Linked DNA regions of Homo sapiens. The protein of the gene in region 1 purifies or fractionates together with the protein of each later gene. This does not show direct contact. Each region holds a gene or a part of one and is shown on either strand. Other genes may lie near its edges.

Region 1 (12,311 bases):
TCCATGCCCGCACGACTCCATTCCCAGCAGAAGTCCGCCATCTTGTGGACACATACAATTCCAACAGCCCAGGCCAAAATCAGAAAGTCAAGATCAGAGAGAAGATGGCTTCAAAGTCACTCAACTTCTCTTCCTACCTCCAAATACAGCTTCATCTAATTGGCTCTAAAAGTCAAGGGCATGAGTGGAGAATCTTCCTGGTCTTTAAAATAGCTAAGACATAAGAAGAATGGCATCAAAGGAGGACCTCAAACATCACCCCTTCAGCCTTTGGAGAATTGAGCCCCTGGTCTACAGATGACCCCTTCCACCCTCTCCAGTTCATGGAAACAGGGTAGCTGTTGAGTTAAATGCTCCACTCTCATGGGAGAGAGAGCCCACTTCACTCACTCCCTTCATAAACCTGCAGAAGGCCTCACCATGAGCTTGAAGAAGTCTAATTTCTGACTCACTTATTGCTTAACCAGGGTACTTAAAAGCTAGTGTATGCCTTTGTTTCTCTATCCATAAAATGGGGATGATAGTACTATCTACCTAATAGATCTGTTGTGGGCACAAGACGAGTTAATATATATGAAGTGATTAGAATACTGCCTAACTCAGTAAATTCAAGACGCTACCTATTACATCCCCCACCACCAAACCCAATATTCCTACAACATTTCATTGTATCCCCACTCACCTTGGATATTGTTTATATCCAGGTATGTCAGGTGCTACTGGAGAGAAGAAAAAATTAACAGGTTATAGTCCTTACCTTCTGAAATTTGTGGCATAGTCTAGGAGCATGAACAACACACATACACACAGAACAATTATTGCGAGATTAAAACTAAGAATTTCCAGCCAAGTGCGGTGGCTCACGCCTGTAATCCCAGCACTTTGGGAGGCCGAGGTGGGCGGATCACCTAAGGTTAGGAGTTCAAGACCAGCTTGACCAACATGGAGAAACCCCATCTCTATTAAAAATACAAAAAAATTAGCTGGGTGTGGTGGCGCATGCCTGTAATCCCAGCTTCTCGGGAGGCTGAGGCAGGAGAATCGCTTGAACCCAGGAGGTGGAGGTTGCAGTGAGCCAAGATCCTGCCATTGCATTCCAGGCTGGACAGCAAGAGCGAAACTCTGTCTCAAAAAAAAAAAAACAAAAAAACCCACACACCCAAAAAAAACTAAGAATTTCCATAAAGGGAAAAAAAAAGTGAAAGTATAAGGAGAAGAGCATCCACAGTCCCACCTAAGGAGATCAGGCGACTCTAATTGAGGCCAGGTAGGTGCTAGCACAGGCTGACACTCAGCGATTCTGGACGGAGCAAAGGCAACACTGGGAAGTGCTTTGCCATTCCCTTGAAGAGCTCACCTACCTTCTGCAGTCTGTTCTCAGCCATGCAGAATCAAAAACTTGTTTTTTTAAGTACTTTCTATCAATTATTTTTATTTATTGTGTAATCTGCCATGTATGATTTTGAAAGTCCTTTTTTTTTTTCAATGGGGTCTTGCTCTGTCACCCAGGCTGGAATGCAGTGGTGCAAATCACAGCTCACTGCATCCTCGAGCTCCTGGACTCAAGCAATCCTCCCGCCTCAGCCTCCCAAGAAGCTATGACCACAGGCACATGCCACCATACCCAGCTAATTTTTTAAAATTTTTTTGTAGAGATGGAGTCTTGCTCTGTTGCCCAGGATGTCTTGAACTCCTGGGCTCAAGTGATCCTCTCACTTTGACCACCCAAAGTACTGGGATTACAGGTGTGAGCCACCACACCCAGCCTTGAAAACTTAACTTTGTCATAAGGAGTGGAGGCATTTTTTTATTCCCTGCATACAGTCTGATTGACTTTATCTCCCCAATGTCACTCATTCGTGCTTCTTTCCCTCCATGGCCACTGCTACCCTGTTAGCCCTGGCCAGCATCATCTCTCTCCTGGCCTACTGCAAGCACCTCATGGCCAGTCTCTGCTTCTTCTCTGGGCTCTCCCCAGTGCATCCTCCTCCACGGGGCAGCCCAAGCACACCTCCCATCATGCTCTCCCCACTCAGTGCTCCAGGGGCTCTTCAGCACACTTGGGATAAAACCAAACTTTTTTTTTTTTTTTTGAGATGGAGTTTCACTCTGTTGCCCAGGCTGGAGTGCAATGGCGTGATCTCGGCTCACTGCAACCTCCGCCTCTTGGGTTCAGGTGATTCTCCTGCCTCAGCCTCCTGAGTAGCTGGGACTATAGGCATGCGCCACTGTGCCTGGCTAATTTTGTATTTTTAGTAGAGATGGGGTTTCACCATGTTGGTCAGGCTGGTCTTGAACTCCTGACCTCAGATGATCCATCTGCCTCGGCCTCCCAAAGTGCTGGGATTACAAGCGTGAGCCACCACACCCAGCCAGGATAAAACCAAACTCTTTACCTGCATTGTGCTAGCCTCATCTATGTCTACTTGTACTCTCATTCTTTGCCAGGCCCTGAAGACCTTCAGGATTTGGTCTTCTCATAAGCACTTCTCTCTCGGCTTTAAGCACTGGTCCATAAAGTCTTCACCTGTCCTCACCCATTCATCTTTCAGGGCACACCTGAAAATCACCTCCTCAGGAGGTTTCTGGAACCCCTGGGAAGAGGTCAGATTCTCTGGTTTCACACATTCCCATAGCAGCCTCACTTCTCCTTCTCAGCATCACCACCATTGTTGGCTGGAACCCCTACCTATTCGTGTAATTATTGTTTGGCCTGTAAGCTCTACAAGGGCAAACACCGTGTCCCGTGAGGTCACAGTCACATCCTCAGTTATTAGCATAGTGCCTGACACGTAGGAAGTCTTGAATAAATGGACAGAATAAATGGATAGAATAAATGGCTCACTGAGTGTTTCATGCCAATGAATAGGGTGGATATAAATACACGCAGAGGGTTCATTTAACCATATTCTCCTTTCAGTGGCATAAGGGGATATTTGAGGAACATTATTCAAGCCAAGTGTTTTTCATTGTCCATCAATATGCGTAAGCTTTAAGACTTTCATAACACGGGCTATATTTTGCTAACAGTAGAAACCCAAGTCCTTCATAGAGACTAGATGGGTTTTGTAGAAGCAAATCAATCCTTGCCGTGGCGAGGTGCTTTTCTGATTTCAAATATTTTAGCAGAAGGCTGTCTAGCTCCTAGTAGAATTCGTCCACTGCTCCTAGTAGAATTCCTCCACTGTTCTGTTCCAACCCTTTCCTGCCCCAACACTTCATTCACATGGAATCAGCAGAGCCTGGAGACAGCATGGCTTGGCCTTTGCTGATCTGGTGTGCTGGACAGAGGGAGGTAGACGGCATGGGCAGCAGTTTCTGATCCTTGTAATCCTTGTTCCCAATATGTCACCTTGGGAGCATCACCAGCACACACACACTCTGGACATAGAGCACAGGCAGGAGCCACTCACTGGTGATGACCCTGTTTCAGACTTTGTCCGGCCTCCACCCCTGCCACATTCCGGAGTAGCTGACCACACCTGGAAGGACAGATAATGGAGACTACTAAAAGGAAAACAAGTCTATAAAAGAGAATGGCATGGGCATTCCATTGATACACACTTTGAAATGCACCTGGCTCAGAGAGCCACATGTTCTCCACTCTGTAGGCCAGCTAGGTGGGAAGCCAAAGTCTCCAAAATTGGCCTTCTGGAATCACAGCAAGGGGAGGGTTGAGCCTGTGAAATTTTCAACCCACATAAGCCCCAAAGAGGTTGGCCCGACCAAGAAATGTGAGTGTCCACATCTGGTGGAGCAAAGCACTCTCTCCAGTCTGTGTGAGGATGGACTTGGTCTACGCTTGCCTTTCAGATGACCTAACTTGAAGCCTCCAAGCCCATCAATCCTCCTTTGCTGACATTCTTCTTTTACGTACTTTCATGCATTCATTTTCTCTCTCTCAATCCTGTGACCCTGGGAGGCCATTTGTGTCTTTATATGAGCTTCCTGTCTCTGCTCCAACTCTTAGCATTGGATTAACAACCCTACTCTCAGGGAATAAGCAAGCACCTCTATTTCCAAGTTCTCAGAGGGCAGATGTCCAGCCATTCTCGGATTCCAGCGGGGAAGTGAGTCCAGCTCACCTCACTCCTGTGGCTCAATTGCTTTTATGATGCTGTCACTGACTGGGCAGCCAGGGAGTGTCCAGCAGGATGAAGGGTCCTTTGTGCTGCCCTTTCTGCAGAGGGAAGCCAGCTTTGACAAGACCCTACTGCCTTTAAAACCTCATCTTCTCTGCAGTATTGTATCATAGCCTTTTGCTAAAAAGGGAAATGAAATTACTCTTCAAGCAGAGCTGTCTGAGATATTGGATTCATTTAAACGTATTTTTCATTACTTTTCAGACTAAGCCTTCTCTTCCGTGTCTCTGCAAAGCCTGGACAAACCTATAGCAGGAGGTTTGCAAGGATTTCACACATTGCCTTAACTATTGAATCATGACTTTACAAGTCATCATTCTTTGTTGCAAATTACAAAAACCCAATTCACACGGGCTTATGTAAAGAAGAGACTCTGTTGGTTGTGAGATTCTTCCATTTTCAGGCATGGCTGGATCCAGGCTTTTAAACTTCACCTGCAGAAAGCCTTTCTCCCTGTGAGGCTTTCTCCTGACAGCTCCAGGCTCACATTCTACCAGCTCTACACATTCATCACAAAGAAAGCTTCTCTTTAATAGTGTGAGTAGGATTGCCAGATTTAGCAAATATTTGGAACACATCATTGATGATCCAAAATTCAGTTCAACTGAGGTTGTCCTTTACTGACAACCTAAGTCCCATATAGGTCCTAGGATTGAATCTGGGCAATTTGGATCCTATACCCATCCTAGACCCAATCACAGTGGTCAACAGAATGGGATATGTCAGCTGGCAGGCCAAAGTCACCTGCCTATCCCCAAAAGGAGGGGAGCACGGTCAACCCTGTAGTCCACATCCACCCATAGTGCATGTGGTAATCCACAGTACTAAAGACACTGATCCTCGAAGAAAGGGGACTGAACCCTGCAAAGGCAAAACCAACAGACGCTCACTAAGGTGACTTTGAAAGTCCCAGCCGGGTGCAGTGGCTCATGCCTGTAATCCCAGCACTGTGGGAGGCCGAGGCAGGCAGATCATGAGGTCAGGAATTCGAGACCAGCCTGGCCAATATGGTGAAACTCCATCTCTACTAAAAAAAATACAAAAATTAGCCCAGCATGGTGGTGGGCGCCTGTAGTCCCAGCTACTCTGGAGGCTGAGGCAGGAGAATCACTTGAACCCAGGAGGCAGAGGTTGCAGTGAGCTGAGATCGTGCCACTGCACTCCAGCCTGGGCAACAGAGCAAGACTTTGTCTCAAAAAAATAGAAATAAAAAAAGAAAGTCCCAGACAACAGTGAAAACTATAAAACTTCATGGTGGTTGTATGGCATTCAAGAGCTTAAAAGCACTTCCATGCCATTGTTTCCTTGTGGGTATTATAATCATTCCCTGTATTAATTTGCTAGGACTGTCCCAACAAAGTACCACAGTCTAGGTGGCTTAAACAACGGAAATTTATTTTCTCACAGTTCTGGAGGCTGGAAGTCCAAATTCAGGATGTTGGTAGGGTTGGTTTCTCATGAGGCCTCTCCCCTTGGCTTGCAGACGGCCGTCTTCTCCCTGTGTGCCCATGTGGTCTTCCCTCTGTAACTGTCCCCTCTTCGTATCAGGACACTAGTCATATTGGATTAGGGTCCACCCTATAACCTCATTTTAACTTAATCATCTCTGTCAAGTCCCTGTCTGCAAATGCAGTCCCATTTTGAGGCACTGGGGGTTAGGGCTTCAGCATATGAATTGGGGGTGCAGGGGGAATGCAAGTCAGCCCCTAGCACTCTCGCTCTCATTTTTTTCTTTTATGTAAGGAAAAGCACAGTGAGAATAGTCTTCGCTTGTTTCCAATCCCAGGGCTGATTTAGCTGTGGAACTCCACCCAGTGCTGGTCCCCGCTGTCCCCACCCCACCTCTGCAAACACGGGTGCCCACCCCCGCCAGCCGCCAGGCTCCCTGCCTAGTCCCGGCACGGGACCTTCACGGTCCCAGCACCAGGCACAGAGCAGACAACGTTCTTGAAATAAGTGTTTCGTGAAAAGAATGAAACTGAGAGGGAAAGAAAAAAAAAACTAGACAGTTTTAGGAGATTTAGCTCAAAGGAAAAGAGGACAGGCACAGAAGCTCCTGATTTGAAGCGATAAAGACTCTTTAGAACAGCAGAAATGAGGCCTATGGATGTGTAAATGAGCCCGGGGAGGAACTAAGCAGAAGGGCGAATTACAAAACAGAAAAAGACCAGACAGACTAGGGGAGAACAGTGAATATTTCAGTGTCTTCGGTTCATAAGAAATTCATGAGCAATTTTGGAAATTTTGTTGGTTTTGGTGGTGGGAGAGAATTGTAAATATGTATAATATGTAAATATCTTTTATAATAAAAGCCCATGAAGATAAATGAGCCTGTCTGCCGAAAAGCTGTGAGCCGTATAAGATGTTAATATAACTGTCGTCACTCTAGAAATTACCATAATGCTTACAGGGATTTGAAAGTTCCTGAGCTTTGGAAGGAAATGCATAAATACTAAACAGAACACACACACACACACACACACACACACACACACACACACACACATCTCTTTTTCTTTCTCTTTCTTATTTTTGTAAAAACAATTTTTATCCTTTTTTTTTTGAGGAGTCTCGCTTTGTTGCCCAGGCTGGAGTGCAGTGGCACAATCTGGGCTCACTGCAACCTCCGCCGCCCGGGTTCAAGCAATTCTCCTGCCTCAGCCTCCTGAGTAGCTGGGATTACAGGCTCCCGCCACCACGCCCGACTAATTTTTTCGTATTTTTAGTAGAGATACGGGGTTTCACCATGTTGGCCAGGCTGCTTTCGAACTCCTGACCTCAGGTGATCCGCCCACCTCGGCCTCCCACAGTGCTGGGATTACAGGCGTGAGCCACTGCGCCCAGCCCTTTCTTTCCTTCTTTCTTTTTCTTTCTTTCTCTTTCTTCCTCTCTCCCCTCCCGCCTGCCTTCCTTCCTTTTTTCCTTCTTTTTTTTCTTTCTTCTTTTTTTTTTTTTTTGTGAGGAAGGTAGCTTTAGTGAAAACAGGGTTTGGAGTTGAACCTATACGGGTTCAAATTCGACTTCCGTCCACCACCGAGACCTGCGCTCCCTGAGGGACTCGCTTTCCCATCCGCGAAACCAGGACGGCGCCGCCTACACCCCGCGGCGTTCGGGGCGGGCTGAATGGGTCGCTGAGTGGGGGCTACACCCACGCCCTTCGCTCCCCGCCCCCGGGCGGAGCGACGGCCACGGCAGTGTCCCCAAGGCACCGAAACCGAGGCGGGGGTCTCGGTCCCTCCGCGCAAGGAGGAAGGCGGACCGTACGTGGCAGGACTCACCGCCCCGCACGTGGCAGGACTCACCGCCCCGCGCCGTGTTCTCCGAGCCATGGCGCCAGCGCTGTGGCGGGCCTGCAACGGACTCATGGCCGCCTTCTTCGCGCTGGCGGCCTTGGTGCAGGTCAGGCGGCCGCGGTGGGAGGGGGACCCGCCCGGCTCCCAGCTCCGCCCCCTGGCCTAGCGGGCCGTGTAACTGACTAGCGGGCAGAGTCGCAGGGGCGCACAGTTAGTGGGGAGGACGGGACTTGGGCTTTCTGCTTGGGGAGCCCCCACTTTCTCCCCCGTCTAAGAGACGCGGATGTGTTCATGGAAGCGAGTCCCATACCAGGGCTCACACCCTGGAAGGGGCTGGTTCCGCGCGTGGAACTTCCCAGGGGACCTCAGAAGAAGCGGCCCTGGCTCCTGCGTTAACGTCCGGCCCGCGGACGACACTGAACATATCTCAGGGCCTAGGAGACGAAGCCGACCAAAACCCTTTATAGCATCATTAAACTTTTTAGTCGGCTTGGGGACCCCCTTCATAATCATTTCCCTCATTTCTTGAGACTGGTGGGGGTGGAGGGCCCTTAAAATACCCGTTCTGGGTTGGCGAGTCCTCTCCAGAGCTCCCGTGAAGGCTTTTCAAAAATGTGTGGCTGCCTGTTAAAAACATCTGTTGTGTCAGCCAGAAACCCCTTCACCCGTCCTCATCTGGACTATATCCTGTTCAGATTTTGTACCCTCGATGCCTATTGCAGTGTCTGGCACTTAACAAATTAATAAAAAATGTGCTTAAATGAATTTAAAAGGAATGGAACAGCACAGGATGTCTGCTAACACCTTGGTATTCTGGCGTTCCAGGTAAATGACCCAGATGCAGAGGTGTGGGTGGTGAGTATGAGCCGCTTCCAGGCTTTCCTCCGTTTGGAAGAATTGGGGAACGGCACAAAACACACGGTTTTATGTCTTTACCCCTCCTCCCTGCTTAATTTTCTGAGAAACTTAAAAATCAAACCCTTGGGAAGCGCTTTTTCCTAAAATATTAATAGGCAGGATCAGAGTTCTAATGTAATGTGTGTGTGAATTTCGAACTTTCTGGAAACAGGTCTTTCTGCAGTATTCCCTTTGGTTAGATGGCCCAACTGAGGACTTTCTTGAGGACCTAGAGTAGGCCTCTCAAGATCAGTTGAACAATTCCTTATGAGTTTCTAGCCAGACACTCAATGCAAACCTTTGACCGGAAAATAACAGGCTTAAGTTCTGAGGTTCTGCTAATTCAGTGACTTATATTTCTAGAAAGTATTAACTCCTGGCTGGGCAAGGTGGCTCACGCCTGCAATCTCAGCACTCTGGGAGGCCAAGGCGGGTGGATCACTTGAGGTCAGGAGTTCTAGATCAGCCTGAGCAACATGGTGAAACCCCGTCTCCACCAAAAAATACAAAAATTAGCCAGGCGTGGTGGCATGCGCCTGTAGTCCCCAGCTACTAGGGAAGCTGAAGCAGGAGACTCGCTGGAACCCAGGAGGCAGAAGTTGCAGTGTGCTGAGATCGTGCCACTGCACTCCAGTCTGGGCGACAGAGTGAGACTCCATCTCAAAAAAAAAAAAGCAAAGAAAAAAAAGAAAAAAAAAAAGCAAAGAAAAGTATTAAATCCTGTAAAACCTACAGTCTTCATATAAGCAAGGCTCTGATTTGAACCATTTGGAGGAGGGGGCCATTGTTCCATACATCTTCTAAATATCTTTTTTTTTTTTTCTTTTTGAGACGGAGTTTTGCTCTTGTTGCCCAGGCTGGAGTGCAATGGCGCAATCTAGGCTCACCGCAACCTCTACCTCCCAGGTTTGAGTGATTCTTCTGCCTCAGTGTCCCAAGTAACTGGGATTACAGGCATGCGCCACCACACCCAGCTAATTTTGTATTTTTAGTAGAGACAGGGTTTCTCCATGTTGGTCAAGCTGGTCTTGAACTCTCGACCTCAGGTGATCCACCTGCCTCAGCCTCCCAAAGTGCTGGGATTACAGACATGAGTCACCGCGCCCGGCTCTAAATATCTTTTATCTTCCAAAATATCTGAATTTTGCCCAGTTTCTCTCAATATAGATACACAAGACTGTACAGTACACCAAGGAGATGACTCTTAAGCTTTAGAATAATATTGACAGAGGAGCAACAAGGATGATGGTATCTGGAATTATAACATGAAATTCTATCCAGGTTTTGTTTTTTTAGTGCAGTAAAACCACATTCTGATATTTACTATCCAGATCAGTATGCCTCTGAATCAAATCAAACTGCCTTTGCCTTGGCACCCTGGTCCGTATCTTGAATTCCAAATATTATTTCCCTGCAGACAAGTCTCAGACATCCAGCTTAATGGTGAATTTCCAAAAGACTGCTGCGTATATTCACCTGCATGTCACACTGCTCCTCAGATATGCCCAAGGACCTACCTAGCATCTTTCCCTCCAAAATCTACTTATCCTGACTCACCCATTTCTGTTATCAGCAGAATCATTCTCTGAGTCATTCTTGTTCAGAATCTCAGTCATCTTTATCATCTCTCTGTTCCTTACCACTGCCTTGGAGAGCCCCTCAAAACACAAAATAAATTTGAGTCGGGCATGGTGGCAGGCATCCGTAGTCCCAGTTACTCAAGAGGCTGAGGCAGGAGGCTCACTTGAGCCCAGGAGTTCGAGGCCAGCCTGTGCAACATAGCGAGACCCCCCCCATCTCCAAAAAATTAATTAAACAATCGAGGTCTAATTGCTTATCTCTATAGTACCTGCACATTTTACCTTTCATTCATGCTCAGACGATATAATAGGAGGAATAGACCCCATGTCCCCATAGACATCCTCCCTCATTCACAGTTCAGCCCTCCACTACCTCCCACATGGACCCCTGGCACCTGCCTTAACATCTTCTGATATAAGCACAGAAATTGATGTGATTAGACAGCTACATTGTTTGGAAAGTCCCCATCCTTCTTATAAACCCACCCTCCCTACTTATTCCCTGCCAACAACACACACAATAGTAAGTTTGGCTAGAGCCTGCTTGTTATGAACAAGGCTTAGGAATAGGGCCTCTTTAGGGCTAGTCTTCTCATTTCCAAACACTTATCAGCAGTTCCAAAATGAAGAGCCTGACCTTATTACTGGGCACAGCTGATTGTGTATGCATTATTAGAAAACTTTCTGTGGTCTCACAGAGATGCAGTACTGGCCTGGATGGTCCATTGGGTCCAAAGCCAGCAGGGCCATCTAGCATCGTGGCTGCTCCTGCCCTACTTTTCAAAGAACATTTTCTTTTATGCAAGTGGGGAAAGGCCATTTGGGCATGAAAGTTGCTTGGGAGCGACTGGAAAGTTAGTGTGTCTTAAGACCAAAACCCTGTGCTCAGTGTTAGAGCTCAAAGATAAATGAGCTTCTGGAATAGCCTATAGTCTAGGAGGAAGGTAGATAAAATTGCAGGCAGACGTGCTAAGTGCCACAAAAGGAGAATCTACCACTTTCTCAATCACCATTGAAACTTAGAGGCAAATCATGGGGCACAGCAGCCACTGATCTCATCTTTCTTTACTTCCTGTATCTCTGAACATCTCATATATTGGGCATACATCTTAACTCATGTAATTTCCTCCCTTTTTGCTAACAGGTGGTGTACACAATCCCTGCAGTACTGACCCTGCTTGTTGGACTTAACCCTGAAGTCACAGGTATAAGCCTTGCATTCTAAATGGAGAGACAGCAAATCAGATTTCCTCATAATAATGAGGGTCTATCTGCCCAACTCCCAGGAGTAAAACGGGGCTCTCTAGGCCTTTCTTCTCATTTCTGATAATAAAAGGGGCTAATTCTAATCATCCTTACCCATCTTCAGGAAAACGTCAGAAGGATCTGCTATAAAACAGCGTCTTCTGTTTTATAGAAGTGAGAGGACAGATTCTTCTTCACTTTCTTTAAAACAGTTTCTCCTAGTGGGGCTCGAATGTTCTCAGGGGCCTTAGAATAAAGACTAATGAGTCCCACCTTAGTGGGGAAAATTCTAGTTCCCTAGATGCCTGGGCTCCTTGTATAGGCAGCTAGAACTCCGTCTGCATCTTTAAGGTAGATCAGTTAGGGCTCCTTTAGATACAAGCTAGAAAATAACTCAAATGTGCTATGAGCTGAGAAGAAAAGGTATTGGTACAGTTTACTGAAAAGGTGAAGGGTGGTGCTGGCTTCAGACTGGTGGACTCGGAACTTTACCTTCTCTCCACCTCTCAGTTCCACCATCTGTCATGCTAACTTCACTCTTGGGCTCCACACAGTGGCCCTGCAGCCCCCCATTCACATCTTCACGATGCCACGTCCAGTGGAATATGGACTGTGTTTCTTCACTCTACCAAAGTCTCAGAATGCAGTTGCTGGCTCTGATTGCTTGTCCGTTTGTGCTGATCCAAATCACTGTGGCTGAGGAGATAACATGTATTGATTGACCTAGCCAAAGTCCAGTTCACTGGGAAACATGGACTGTGAGTGTGGACATGGTGGATCCCCAGAGAAAATAAGGGTAATCATCCTAGGAAGGGGAGCTGCTGAACAACCCAAACAAGAAATGGCCACTGAAGTTTATAATTAGTGCTGTGACCTCTGTGTTGTCCTAAAACAAAAAGGGGCGATGGGGCTGAGGGAGTCTGAATGTCTTTTCTGAAAGCAGACTATGGCAAAACATACAAAAAGATCATTTTTTTTTTCTGTGGGCTGTGATTCCGTGGTTAACAACATCAGAACATCTATTTTTAGGTAATGTTATTTGGAAAAGTATCTCTGCAATACACATACTCTTTTGTACGGTGTGGGCTGTTGGCTTGGCGTCCTACCTCTTGCATCGTACACAACAGAACATCTTACATGAGGAAGAAGGCAGG
Region 2 (7,478 bases), on another chromosome or scaffold:
AGTGAGGGGGCGGGGGCTTAGGGACCAGGGGCTCGAAGGAGGGGCCGGTGGCCCGCACTCCAGGTCCTTGGGGAGGAGAGGGCTAAGAAACTGGTAGTCTTATAGGGACCAAGGGGATGAGGACCCAGGCTCCTGGATTATATAAAACGAAAGCGATAAAGGCCCAGATTCCTGGGTCTCCGAGATGGGGAGGCCAAACTCCTAAATCTCTGAGACTGGGGCCCTGGACGCTTGAGTCTCCAAGGCTGACTGTTGGATCTCAGAGAAGGGGGGGCGGATCCCCTTCTCGGGTCCTGGGTCCCGAGTTGGGAGGACCCGGACCTCTAGATCATTGAAGTGGTGTGATCTAGGGCCGGGAAGACTGAGTGTGCCCCTCCCTTCATCCCGCAGGTCCCATTCAGCTGTGGCAGTTCCTCCTGGAGCTGCTCCACGACGGGGCGCGTAGCAGCTGCATCCGTTGGACTGGCAACAGCCGCGAGTTCCAGCTGTGCGACCCCAAAGAGGTGGGGCAGCTCCCCTGCCCAGCCAAATCCGCCCCGTCTCTTCTAGTTCAATTTAGCTCCGCCCAAGGGCTAGGTTCAACCGCGTAGCCCTCGGCCCCGCCGCTCCCCGGCCCACTCGAGGCCCCGCCCAACCCTTCTCAAACCCAATCTCCCGCCTGTACTCCTGCCTCAACCAACCCAGTCTCCACCGGGCTCTGCGAGGCCTCGCCCAGGTCTGCACTGCACACCGCCCCCAGGCCCGGCCCTCCCCACTATCGCCAAGCCCCGCCCCTTCCCACTCCGACCGAGCGGGCCTCTGTCCTAGGTGGCTCGGCTGTGGGGCGAGCGCAAGAGAAAGCCGGGCATGAATTACGAGAAGCTGAGCCGGGGCCTTCGCTACTACTATCGCCGCGACATCGTGCGCAAGAGCGGGGGGCGAAAGTACACGTACCGCTTCGGGGGCCGCGTGCCCAGCCTAGCCTATCCGGACTGTGCGGGAGGCGGACGGGGAGCAGAGACACAATAAAAATTCCCGGTCAAACCTCTTCGCGCGTGCTCCTCTGCAGCATTCTTCCCGCTGATACTGACTACAGCAGCTAGGGAGCCTAAGTGTGCAGCTCCACATGTTGGAATTTGGCCTCCCCACCTCGGAGACCCAGGCGTCTGGGCCTTCATCTCTTTCCTCTCACATGATCCAGAGGCCTGGATCCTTGCTCGCTAAAAGACTGCAGTGTCTTAGTCCTCTTCTCCCTGAAGACCCTGAAGTGCGGGCCACCAGCCCCAAGTCCCTTAAGCTCCCAGGTCCCTAAGCCCCGCCCCACGCTGTCAGTTTCCCCGGTCCCGCCCCCTTAGGCCCCGCCTCTCGACTCCGCCTTCACTCCCTCCGCAATCTTCGCGGACCTCCCTCCTCGGTGGTTAGTTTTGGGATGAGGAACCACCCACCTCCAGTGCTGCGCAATGATCAAAGGAGACCCAGACTCAGGGAGCCTGCCATGTGCCCGCCCTGTGATGAGAGAGGCAAAGAAACTAAACCCAAAGCCCATAGGGCCTACTGTGTCCCTGCCCTGTGTCGGGATTTGTAAAGGAATCAGACCCAATCATGAGAGTATATCTGCTGTGTCCCCTTGAAGAGAAGACTCAGACCCTGAAAAGGGCTTACTGTGCTGTGTGTCCTCCCAGTGCAAGGGATCATCAAAGAATTAAAACTAGTGCTTGCACCCCAACACCACTCACTCTTTCCCCACTCCAAGCTGGAGGACACAGGACTCAGACCTACACTGTAAAGAGAGCCTACGCCATTCTGAGAGCCACTGAGCCCCTAAAGAGAGCCTGCTGTCTGTGAGCGATGCGGGGGATACAGCAGGGACCAAGACAGCCCTGGACCCTCCCCTTAAGGAGCTCACAGTCCAGTGGGAAGACAGACCCATCATCAGAGTGTTTTGACCTGGGATGAGAAGACTCCAGGGGACTGAGGGAGGCCAAAAGGAGAGACCTGATCTAGCCCAGGAGGAGAAGGGTCAGGGGAGACTCCCTGGAGGAGGAGACAGCTGATTTGAGAAGTCAGGTAGGCAAAGAATGTTTCAGGCAGAAGGAACAACAAGATCAAAGGCCCAGAGGCAGACGATCTCATACCACTGCTCAAAACTATCAGTGTGGGCCAGGCATAGTGGCTCACACCTGTAATCTCAGCATTTTGGAAGGCTGAGGCAGGAGGATGCCTTGAGGCCAGGAGTTCCAGACCAGCCTGAGCAACATAGGGGAGACCCCCATCTCTATTTAAAAAATTAAAAATAAACGTGGCTACAGCAGCAACAGGGACCAATTCATAAAGGATCTGTGGGCCGTGGTGAGGAGCCTGGACTTTGTCTCCAGGGCTCCTGGGGAGCCATCAAGGGTTTTGTTTGTTTGTTTGTTTTTTGAGATGGAGTCTCACTCTGTCACTCTGGCTGGAGTGCAGTGATGCAATTTCAGCTCACTGCAACCTCCGACTCCCAGGTTCAAGCAATTCTCCTGCCTCAGCCTCCCAAATAGCTGGGATTACAGGTGCACACCACCACGCACAGCTAATTTTTGTATTTTTAGTAAAGATGGGGTTGCACCGTGTTGGTCAGGCTGGTCTTGAACTCCTGACCTCAGGTGATCCGCCTGCCTTGGCCACCCAAAGTGCTGGGATTATAGGAGTGAGCCACCGTGCCTGGCCCCCATCAAGGGGTTTTAAGCAGGGAAAGGGATTTGGATTTTAGGAAGATCTCATTGCAGGGGATGAATACATGCATGTAAACAGGTAATTCCACAAATAATCACAATGTTGATGGACACAGAATGTGTAAGAAGAGGTCCCTGACCCAATTCCATCTGGACACTGCACCCCAGATGGTATGTGAGAGGCTTTAGAGGCCAGATGGGGGAGGAAGGAAAGCAGTTCTCTTTCATAGCTCCCTCTCCTAGTCCCTAGATGCTTCCTTCATTTCCACAAGAAATTCTTGCATTCAGCAAATATTTATAGACCACTTCCTGTGTGCCAGGCACTGCTTTAGATACAATGGTGAATGAATAAGGCAGACAAAAATTCTTCCTTTATGATAATTCTTTTCTGTTGAGGGAGGCAAAAAGAGGTAAACATAATGTAAAAGAACAGATATAGCCGGGCACGGTGGCTCACGCCTGTAATCCCAGCACTTTGGAAGGCCAAGGCGGGCAGATCACCTGAGGTCAAAAGTTCAAGACCAGCCTGACCAACATGGACAAACCGCATCTCTACTAAAAATACAAAATTAGCCAGGTGTGGTGGCGCATGCCTGTAATCCCAGCTACTGGGGAGGCTGAGGCAGAAGAATCGCTCTAGCTCGGGAGGTGGAGGTTGCAGTGAGCCAAGATCACACCACTGCACTCCAGCCTGGGCAACAAGAGCAAAACTCTGTCTGAAAAAAAAAAAAAAAAAAAAAAAAAAAAAGCCAAATTGGCCAGGTAGGGCAGCTCACGCCTGTAATCCCAGCATTTTGGGAGGCCGAGGTGGGCAGATCACCTGAGGTCAGGAGTTCAAGACCAACCTGACCAACATGGTGAAATCCCATCTCTACCAAAAATACCAAAATTAGCCGGGAGTGGTGGCGTGCGCTTGTAATCGCACCTACTCGGGAGGCTGAGGCAGGAGAATCGCTTGAACCGAGTAGACGCAGGTTGCAGTGAGCCAAGTTCGTGCCACTGCACTCCAGCCTGGGCGACAGAGTGAGACTCCGTCTCTCTCTCTATATATATATTTTAAGGGTAGGGATTTTTGTGTTTTGTGCAGCGTGCTTTCTCAACCCGTAAAGTGCCTGATGGCTGGATACGGTGGGTCACGCCGGTAATCCTAACGCTTTGGAAGGCCGAGGCGGGAGGATCGCTTAGAGACCAGGAGTTCGAGTCCAGCCTGGGTAACACAGCAAGACCCCATCTCTATAAAATGCATATATATATCCAGGAGTAGCGGTGCGCATCTGTAATCCCAGCTACTCGGGAGGATGAGGCGGGAGAATCGCTTGAACCCAGGAGGCGGAGGTTGCAGTGAGCTGAGATCGCGCTACTGCACTCCAGCCTGGGCCATAGAGTAAGACCCTGTCTCAAAAATTTAAAAAAAAGAAAAAAAAAATTTAAAGAAAAGAAATACCTGACACAGAAAAAGCGTTCAATAAATATTTCTTGCATGAATAAAAGTACTTTCGCTGGGACATTTTTCTCCACACCTACCCTCCAGCCAGCCCCGGGATCTATAACACTCTCTCCGAGTGAAGACACAGAGGTGATGAGATCGGGTAACCCACGGGCGCCCGAGCCCCAGCCGCGCAAGCTCACGATTGGGCCAGAAGTGAGGATGAACAAGCATTTAGCCCAATAGAAAGTCGTAGTTCTCTTGCTGGGCGTGGCTTGAATGACTTCAGTGGCCTCCTCCTGGGAGGGAGCTGAAGCCGCTCGCAAGACTCCCGTAGTCCCCACCTCTCTCAGCTTCCGGCTGGTAGTAGTTCCGCTTCCTGTCCGACTGTGGTGTCTTTGCTGAGGGTCACATTGAGCTGCAGGTTGAATCCGGGGTGCCTTTAGGTGAGTGTGGAGGGTTCTGTAACCTGGGACCCCAGTCTAGCGGGCTGAGGAGCCGGACCCCAGCTTCCCTGAGAACGGGTTGAGGCTTCCGGCTGGCGGCGTCCGGCCTCCCTGGACCCCGGGGCCCTGTTCTGTTCATCGTAAGAGCTAACAATGATACGGTTCTTCCTTGATGCCAGGCAACATCCCAAACAACTTTAATTAATTTATTTAACTCTCCCACCAGCCCTATGAGATAGGGCCTGCGATTATCCCCTTTTGTCAGTAAACAGGCTCAGAGATACCAAGCGACCTAGCTGAACCTACACAGCGACCAGGATTTGGCCCAGGAGTTTGTCCTCCAGGGCTCTTCATGGCTAATTCACAGGCGTGGCCTCTCGCGGCTTGCCTGGGCCGCAGCCTGGCTCCCGGGTGTCCAGTCCATCCTCCCTTTTGGACGTTGGAGGGGCCGCAGCGTCATCTCCGATGCACCCTCATCCTCAGATACCGGGTAGAGATCTCGCCGGTAACGATCCTTCCTACTGCGTCTGTGCCCCAGCAGCTGGTGTTTTACACCCCACTTCCCCACCGAAAGACTGTTTTAGTGCTCCAGACCCCCACCACCACCTTGCGTCGCTTGAATTTGACACTGCTCTGCAAGTCTCTGTATAGCCCCACGACTCCTAGGATTCCCTGGAATATAGATACTTTTCTCTCAGGCTCCCGACGAACACTGTCACTTCTTCAGAGACATTATATTAAAGGTGTTTAACCCTGGGTCCGCAGAGTTGGTAGAATTCAAGGAATGCTAGTACTTGAATTGGGGTGGGGGGTGGAATTGCATCTGTGTTTTTACTAACCTTTTGAGGCAGCAACCTCGGTAGTACTAGCAGCAGCGGTGATTTTGTTAGCAATGAAAATCATAGACATTCCTTTTTTTTGTTTTTCTCCTTTTTTGAGACAGGGTCACTGTGTCACCCAGGCTGGCGTGCAGTGGAGAAATCTTGGCTCACTGCAACCTCTGCTTCCCTGTGCAAGCGATCCTGCCTCAGTAGCTGGGACCACAGGCACGCGCCACCACACCTGGCTAATTTTAATTTTTTTTTTTTTTTTTGAGACAAGATCTTGCTGTATCGCCCAGGCTGGAGTACAATGGCACAATCTCGGCTCACTGCAACCTCCGCCTCTTGGGTTCAAGTGATTCTCCTGCCCCAGCCTCCCTGGTAGCTGGGATTACAGGTGCACGCCACCATGCCCAGCTAATTTTTTGTATTTTTAGTAGAGATGGGGTTTCACCATATTGGCCAAGCTGGTCTTGAACTCCTGACCTCAGGTGATCCACCCACCTCGGCTTCCCAAAGTGCTGGGATTACAGGCGTGAGCCACCTCTTCCGGCCAATTTTAATATTTTTTTTGTAGAGATGAGATGGGGTTTCACCATGTTGCCCAGGCTGGTCTTGAACTCCTGGGCTCAAGCGATCCTCCCACCTCAGCATTCCAAAGTGCTGGGATTACAGGTGTGAACCATTGTGCTCCACCCAAAATCACAGGTATTCTTATACCACATTATAACAGCAAATGTCACAAAATACTATATTCATTCATGATTACTTCAAAATTGTATTTTTTTTTTTTTTTGAGACAGTGTTTTTGCTCTGTTGCCCAGGTTGGAGTGCACTGGCACAATCTCGGCTCACTACAACCTCCGCCTCCTGGGTTTAAGCGATTCTTTTGCCTCAACATCCAGAGTAGCTGGGATTATAGGCACCTGCCACCACACCCAGCTGATTTTTATATTTTTAGTAGAGCCAGGGTTTCACCATGTTGGCCAGGCTGGTCTTGAACTCCTGACCTCAGGTGATCCACCCCCCTGGCCTCCCAAAGTGCTAGGATTACAGGCGTGAGCCACCGCACCCGGCGAAAATTGTATTCCTTAATGAATCCTCAGCTGGATATAACTGCTTTTCTTTGTGATGCTGTGCAGGTTTTTTTCACTTCATGTACTCATGGAGCCTATGCAATTTTTAAATACATTTAAACATATTCAGGCCGGGTTTGGTGTCTCCGTTCTGTAATCTCAACATTTTGGGAGGCCAAGCCGGGCAGATCATTTGAGGTCAGAAGTTGGAGAGCAGTCTGACCAACATGGTAAAACCTTGTCTAAAATACAAAAAAATTAGCAGGGCATGGTGGCAGGCGCCTGTAATCTCAGCTGTTCGGGAGGCTGAGGCAACAGAATTGCTTGAATCTTGGAGGCGGAGTTTGCAGTGAGCCTAGGTCGTACCAGTGAGCCTGGGTGACAGAGCAAGACTCTGTCTTAAAAAAAGAAAAAAAAAAACATTCAGCGAGAGGTTTCTGGGATTCATCAGACTGCTGAGGAGTTTGTGGCACCAAAAAGATTAAGAATCTTTGCAGTGTAGATTATGCCAACAACGGAGGCAGCCCACCAGTTATTTTTATGCCGTTTAACCGTAGGAAGTCACTTAGACACCCTGTTCCTTCCTCGTCTGGGCAATGGTGATAGTAATAGTTCCTACCTTTTAGAGTGGCTATAGGAGTAAAGTGTGTAGAACAGCGCCTGGCATGTAGTAAGCACTCAGTGAGTGTTAGCTCATGTTATTTGGGGACCAGGCTTGATTTTGCTGAGGAGTTGTACCCCAACCCTGCCGCGACCTCGACACTCAGATGTGTGGATTCGCCCTGCCCCTCATCTCTGTGTATGTTGAGAGGCAGGAACTTGTTCACACCCAGCCCATTGTTCCGTGCCTGCCCTCTTCCATTGATCCTGGGTAGTCTGGCTTGCTCAGGGCCCCTGGGGCCCCTGCTGACACCCACTCCTTTCGCCTCCAGGATTCAGCACCATGGCGGAAGACATGGAGACCAAAATCAAGAACTACAAGACCGCCCCTTTTGACAGCCGCTTCCCCAACCAGAACCAGA

What was found.
Region 2: the proteins of TMEM220 (region 1) and COX6B1 purify together in Homo sapiens (affinity purification with mass spectrometry; 2 studies listed by BioGRID and IntAct, with this or other methods). This does not show direct contact.

The regions. Positions count from the first base shown.
Region 1 is NC_000017.11:10,725,010-10,737,320, reverse strand, and holds the start of TMEM220 (transmembrane protein 220), read left to right. Parts: upstream 1-7,297; 5' UTR 7,298-7,469; coding exon 7,470-7,541; exon of another isoform or gene 7,542-7,544; intron 7,545-8,260; coding exon 8,261-8,290; intron 8,291-11,056; coding exon 11,057-11,117; intron 11,118-12,186; coding exon 12,187-12,310; intron 12,311-12,311.
Region 2 is NC_000019.10:35,643,845-35,651,322, forward strand, and holds the start of COX6B1 (cytochrome c oxidase subunit 6B1), read left to right. Parts: upstream 1-4,478; 5' UTR 4,479-4,559; intron 4,560-7,388; 5' UTR 7,389-7,399; coding exon 7,400-7,478. Other genes in the region: ETV2 (ETS translocation variant 2), read left to right, coding at 391-503, 808-1,008. UniProt on the Homo sapiens protein: Component of the cytochrome c oxidase, the last enzyme in the mitochondrial electron transport chain which drives oxidative phosphorylation.